Homo sapiens: one gene and its partner. The protein of the gene in region 2 purifies or fractionates together with the protein of the main gene of each other region. This does not show direct contact. Each region holds a gene or a part of one and is shown on either strand. Other genes may lie near its edges.

The links.
Region 1: the proteins of PRRC1 (region 2) and SEC24D purify together in Homo sapiens (affinity purification with mass spectrometry; one large-scale study listed by BioGRID and IntAct). This does not show direct contact.

The regions. Positions count from the first base shown.
Region 1 is NC_000004.12:118,829,562-118,833,213, forward strand, and holds part of SEC24D (protein transport protein Sec24D), read right to left. Parts: intron 1-3,652. UniProt on the Homo sapiens protein: Component of the coat protein complex II (COPII) which promotes the formation of transport vesicles from the endoplasmic reticulum (ER).
Region 2 is NC_000005.10:127,520,618-127,524,269, reverse strand, and holds part of PRRC1 (protein PRRC1), read right to left. Parts: intron 811-3,652; 5' UTR 791-810; coding exon 688-790; intron 1-687. UniProt on the Homo sapiens protein: May act as a regulator of the protein kinase A (PKA) activity during embryonic development.

The DNA.
Region 1 (3,652 bases), on a different chromosome or scaffold from region 2:
CAGCACTTTGAGAGGCCGAGGCGGGTGGATTACCTGAGGTCGGGAGTTTGAGACCAGCCTGACCAACACAGAGAAACCCCGTCTCTACTAAAAATACAAAATTAGCCGGGTGTGGTGGCGCATGCCTGTAATCTCAGCTACTCAGGAGGCTGAGGCAGGAAAATCGCTTGAACCTGGGAGGCGGAGGTTGCAGTGAGCCGAGATCGTGCCATTGCACTCCAGCCTGGGTAATAAGAGCGAAACTCCGTCTCAAAAAAAAAAAAGTGTTAGTATACAGCACTAGCTTTACAAAAACACAATGAATAAGCATAAATGGAGATACGATAATGTGAGCAACACAAAGCAAGAGTTAGCACTGGCCAGATCTACAGTGGAATAGATACTTCAAAGAACCACAATAAGTTTGCTTGTGTCTGTCAGGAGACCAATAAAAGCGTCACTAAAAGGCTAGACAAGAAGACACAGGAAGACTGAAGATTAAGGTATCTAAGGTTATTCAGCAGAATATAATCAGAGATATAAGAGCTGGAGTAATTTAGTGAAAGTCTTAAATAATTAAACCAAAACACCACAATATGCATAGAAAGATATATTTGCAGAGAGTATAATAGCCTGGTTATTCACCTGATATTTAATAGCCATTAAGTAAGGAGAAAGCAGTTTAAACTAAAGCATGAAGGATTTAATCCAACAAAGACAGCTTTTAAAAACACTGGTAAGGCCAGGTGCCGAGGCTAACGCCTATAATCTCAGCACTTTGCGAGGCCAAGGCGAGAGGATCACTTGAGCTGAGGAGTTCAAGACCAGCCTGGGAAACATAGGGAGATCCCATCTCTACCAGCTACTTGGAAGCTAGGCAACAGAGCAAAACCCTGTCTCAAATAAATTAATTAATTTAATTTAATTAAATATTGGTAAATACCAGAGTGTTTTGCTAATGAGTGCTACAGTTTGTCATCCACTTCATTGAATAAACATTTATAATTAGCTCAATTTAACCATTCCACAGTGTATACATATTTCAAAACAATATGTTGTACATTATATATATATGTATATATAATTTTTTATTTGCCAATTAAAATTTTTTTTTTTAAAAACAGCCATGAGTGCCTTCTCTGCTCCAGGAACATCTACTATAGGAACATCTATTATAACACAGTATGGCAAATAGTATAGAGGCCTGAAAAAGTATTAGAATACAAAAGAATTCAAATTAGATTTGCATGGTATAAAAAAATCCCTCTGGCTCAGGAGTTGATGGTTTGGAAAAAGACAGTATTGGAGAGAGGGATAATAGTTACAAGATCATTTTAGTAATCCATGTGAGAGATGGATGGATTGAACAAAAAGAGTGACAGGAGAATGGAAAGGAGAAAGCAGGTAGGAAAGCTGTTTACAATCACTCCAAAAAGATTTGGGAGACCGATTACATTGGAGGAGATAAAAAGGAGGGAGAGGTTTTTTTGCTTGTTTGTTTGAGAGAGTCTCACTCTGTTCCCCAGGCTGGAGTGCAGTGGCGTGATCTTGGCTCACTGCAACCTCCATCTCCCTGGTTCAAGCGATTCTCATGCCTTAGCCTCCCAAATAGCTGAGATTACAAGCATGTGCCACCATGCCCAGCTAATTTTTATCTTCTATTTTTTTAGTAGAGACCGGGATTCACCATGTTGGCCAGGCTGGTCTCAAACTCCGGGCCTCAAGTGATCCACTTGTCTTGGTCTCCCAAAGTGTTAGGATTACAGGTGTGAGCCACCACACCCCACCAAGTTTTGTTTTTTTGTTTTTTTAATAAAGTTTCTGGTATGGATCACGAAATAAATGATGCTAATGAGTGAGATTTGAAATGCCAGAAAACATAGGCTTCCATGATGAATATGGAATTGTTTTGGGCATGGTGACTGTGACGTGCCTCAACAAAGGTGGGCAACTGGAAATATGGGTCTAGAGCAAGCTTTTCCAACCCACGGCCCACACGCAGCCCAGGACAGCTTTGAATATGGCCCAACACAAATTTGAAAACTTTTTTAATCCATTATGAGATTTTTTTGATTTTTTTTTTTTTTAGCTCATCAGCTATTGTTAGTGTATTTTATGTGTGGCCCATGACAATTCTTCTCCCAGTGTGGCCCAGGAAAGCCAAAAGACTGGATACCCCTGGTCTAGAGCTTAGGGGAGGCATCTGGGCTGGAGAAATAGATCTGAGAGACAAGCACTTTCTGTGAATGATCCAGCTTAGGGAAAAATCTACAGAGTGGGATAACAGTAGTGAAGATGGAACATGGAGGGAGAAACAGCAACACTTAAGAGTCATGTAGAAGAATTCCTTCAAAAGAAATGTCCAGAAAGCAACCCAAAAAAATGGGCACAATGGCTCACACCTATAATTCCAGCACCTTGGGAGGTGGAGGCGGGTGGATCACGTGAGGTCAGGAGTTCGAGACCAACCTGGCCAACATTGTGAAACCCCGTCTCTACTAAAAATACAAAAATTACCCAGGCATGGTGGCGGGCGCCTGTAATCCCAGCTACTCAGGAGGCTGAGGCAGGAGAATCACTAGAACCCAGGAGGCTGAGGCAGGAGAATCACTAGAACCCAGGAGGCGGAGGTTGCAGTGAGCTGAGATCGCAAAACTGCACCCCAACCTGGTCGACAGAGGGAGACTCCACCTCAAAAGACAACAACAAAAGGATAGTGTCATTGAAACCAAAGGAGAAAAGAGTTTTGTAAAAATGAGAGTGGTAAACAGAGTCAAATACAAAAGAGGACAGACAGCACAATGTCTACTGCATTGAGAAATAGGACACTGATAGTCCTGGTGAGGGAAGTGAAAGTGTGGATGGGGTGGCAAACTATGGAGTGTAAACTATGCTGAGCCATGGAGGGAAGGAGAGGTAAAGGTGGAGATTACCAAGCATAGTGAGTACTTTCTCAAGAAGATGCCTGTGAAGAGGGAAGGGTGAATAATATAGAGTGTTATACTTAGGTGTGTATGCAATTTGTTTTTTGCCTTCTTGAGAGATCTGGGTATGAATCCTGGTGCTACTACTTGCTGTCTGTGACCTTAGACAAGTCACATGACACCAGACATTCAGTTTTCCTAGCTGCAAAAATAACTTACTGCATAGCATTGTATGAGGATTAAATAAGACAATACAGGAAAAGCTTTTAGGGCCAGATTTCGACACATCATAAAAAGGAATAATTTATAATTATCATTATAAATAAATGCTGAGGAGAAATGAACCACCAGTTAGAAACTGAAGGGGTTAATGGTTTCTACAGGATCCAGTAAGGCAAGATTACAAACATTCTGGAGAGGATGGTCCTGAACAAGAAGAGGGATGCTTCATCTGGACATCTTTAAAATCTCGGGAAGAATAAATCATAAGACTGACTTTCCACAGGAAATTCACAATCTCAGAGCATCTTCTGCAGCACACTGTGTGTGGCTGCTAACATCAAGCCTCACTAAAGGGAGTCCTCACCCCTTGCTGATTCTGCACTATATACATTCTACCTAGCACAGCCTGGATCCCAGATATCTAAGCTAGTTCCAGTGAGCCCTGAGAGTTACTCATTGATTTATACATGGTCCATTTGTACAAAGAATTGTACAAAGAATTATCCTCACATGATGTACAGATTTAT
Region 2 (3,652 bases):
AATAAAATAAAGCGATTTTTCATCCCTAGTTTGAGCATAAAAACCTATGCCCTGAAGGCTCAGAAAGGTTAATCACCACAAAGTCATAGAGCAGTAGGCCGAGCGCAGTGGCTCACACCTGTAATCCCAGGACTTTGGGAGGCTGAGGCAGGTGGATCACCTGAGGTCAGGAGTTTGAGACCAGCCTGGCCAAAATTGTGAAATCCCATTTCTACTAAAAATACAAAAATTAGCTGAGCATGGTGGTGAGTGCTGTAATTGCAGCTACTTGGGAGGCTGAGGCAGGAGAATCACTTGAACCTGGGAGGCGGAGGTTGCAGTGAGATGAGATCGCACCACTGCACTCCAGCCTGGGTGACAAGTGAAACTCCGTCTCAAAAAAAAGAAAAAGAACAGAAGACAAAGCTAACACATGCTTTTTAGGATATTTCTGCCATAATATAAATGATGGTAAAATTATGAACATAAAGAACAAAAGTCCACCTAAAGCAAAACACTGATGTTTTCTTACTTTAAATACACAAGACTTTCTTTCTATTCTTTAAATTAAAAAGGCTATTTCCTTTCATCCTGAAAAATAATAGAGAAGTTTTAATATATGCATTCTTTTCTTAATTGACTCTGAGAAAAGATGATAGTATCTTCACTATTCTCAAAACACACGAGATGTTAGACAACTACATGTACCTAATGGAACAGGGGTAGAAGACATAGCAGTAGCAGCCAGCCCTGCAGGATTTGGTGGAGGAGTCCCAGGTGGTGTTGTCTCTATTCCACTCTCTTCCATCATTTTTCTTCAATTATGGTATACTATAAAAACACAAAAATGTAACAAATATTACACAGTAACCAAAAGTATATTTTTAAAGCTTGAATAGAGAACGACTAAAAAAAAAATCATCAAGAGATAGATGTCCACCTTTACTGTTTATAATGCAACTTATTTCCAGACGAAGAGTTTGTCCAAATTTCTAAGAAAGCAATCTATGAGAATATTTAATATCAAACAATCTGTAACATTCCCATGTAGATACTTTATAAGTGGGAAATAATTTCATGTTATAATAACAATATAACTAATTATCTACTACATTTCAAATAGTAAATTACTAATTTGATTTCTGCCACATGAATGCATGTTAGAGATAGTTATGTCTGGGCCAGGTGTGGTGTCCCATGCCTATAATCCCAGCACTCTGGGAGGCCAAGACGGGAAGCATTTGAGGCTAGGAGTTGTAGACAAGCCTGGGCAACATAGCAAGATCTCATTTCTAAAAAATAAAATAAGTAAATAATATAAATTTCAGTCATTATTAAATTTAAAATAAAAATGAGGCTGGGCACAGTGGCTCACGTCTGAAATCCCAGGACTTTGGGAGGCTGTGATGAGAAGATGCCTTGAACCCAGGAGTTCAAGGTTGCAGTGAGCTATGACTGCACCACTGCACTCCAGCCTGCGTGACAGAGCAAGATCTCTAAAAATAAATAAATAAAATATTTAATGTATTTTTGAAGCCCTTCCTCTTCTCTCATAAAGTACTGTGTATAAGATAACCCCATTAACATAAAAAAAAAATAAAGCCAGGCACAGTGGCTGACCGCTGTAAACCTACACTTTGGGAGGTAGAGGTGGGAGGATCCCTTGAGACCAGGAGTTTGAGACCAGCCTGGGCACCATAGGAAGACTCCATCTCTACAAAAAAATTAAAAAATTAGCCAGGCAGGGTGACATGTGCCTATGGTCCCAGCAACTCAGGATGCTGAGGTGAGAGGATCACCTGATCCCAGGAGGTTGAGGCTGCAGGGAGCAGTGAGAATGCCACTGTACTCCAGCCTGGGCAACAAAGCAGGACCTTGTCTCAATAAAATAAAATAAAATGTGCTTCACTTGATAAAAGCATTAATTCACAATTTTCCTAGTTCACATTTTAAAGCATATCCAGTAACAGATAAATTGTATATCTGAGGTTTTAGAAAAGTTAACTATAGCAAAAATGCCATTAGATAGCAGCATCCTAATAGACAACAATGGATTATAAAATATGAGAAAACTTTCTTTAAAATTACAAATCCTGAAGTGTATCTCAAGTACAGAACCAACTTCTAAATATGCTATATTTGTTTTTAATATTTTTATTCATTTAATAAGTTTTTAGCGAAGGTCAACTGCTTGACGAGCACTATACTGATGCCTTTGGAAATGACAATGATTAGCAAAAACAAATAGGATACTTACAGTCTAGTACACGAAACAATCAAATAATAAACCAATTTACAATGAATGGTAGCTGAATTATGTGCTCTGAGGGTAAGAACACAGTTTTGTTTGACAGGAATATGATTTTGACTTGGAGGTAAGGAAAGGGTTCCCCAAATAAGTCACAGATAAACCGAGATTTGAAGGATAAGAACTTAATTAGGCAAGGGAAGAAAGGCAGAGTCCAGAAAAAGTGAATATATAGCAAATATATATACCAACTGAGCTGGGAAGAACAAGATACATTCAATAAAATCCATGTGAAGGGAGAGAAAGAAGAATCAGGACTGGAGGGACAGACAGAAGCCCAGAAGGTGTTCAGCCTCATAAACCAGGTTAAAAAACTTGGGTTTTTAAAGAACAGAGTGTCACTGTGTTAGAAATAAATTTTCGGTGCCACAAAAGAAATAGCACTCGAACATAAATTTAATTTTCTCAGCAAGGCAATTTTACTTCTATAGAAGGGTGTGTCTCACAGATGGAGCAATGTCAAGAGCACACCTGAACAAGGGAGGGGAAGGGGTTCTTATCCTAACGCAGCTAGTCCCTACTGCTGTGTCTTTCCCCCATTGGCTAGGGTTGGACCACGCAGTCTAAGCTAATTCCAACTGGCTATTTTAAAGAGAGCAGGGGTATGAGCCAGAGCAGCAGGGTGAGTAGTTTGGCGGGAAGGACGGTTACAGAACAGGTGATCCAGGATGACTAAGAACAGAGCAGATGACCAAGGATTACTAAGGTCAGAGCAGGTGACCAAGGGTGACTAAGGTCAGAGCAGTTGATAGAGGCTAGAAGGGGATTGTTTACTGAAACTGGGGGCAAGGAGAAATAAAGAACTAGGAATTTAAACTTTAAAATGAAGAACAAAGAACAGGGGAGCTGAACATACTGATACACTGGTTCTTTGGAGAGGATCTCAGAACTCATTGTACTTAACAATTTACAGGCTAAAATCTATGAAGAGAAATTTATCATATCCTACAACTGTAAGGCATTCAAGCTGAGGGTAGCATAACTGTCTTTTGTTTTAACTGTTTTGAAGGAATTTTAGGTTCAAAAAAAAAATGTAGAAACAGCAGAGTTCTTGAGTACCCCAAACCCAGCTTCTCTCAGTAACAGCATCTTACATAACTACACTACAATGATCAAAACCATGAAACTGACATTGGTACAACACTATTAACTATAGATCTTATTTGTATTTCACATGTTTTTACATTTACTGTGTGTGTGTATGTGCATAGTTCTATGAAGCTTCATCATATGCACAATCTCGTATAACCACCACCTCGACCAGGACATAGAACCATTCCATCACTAAAAAGAAACTTCCTCATGTTGTTCCTTTATCTACCTTCCCGTCAACCATAAGCCCTGGCAAACACTGCTCTGTTTTCT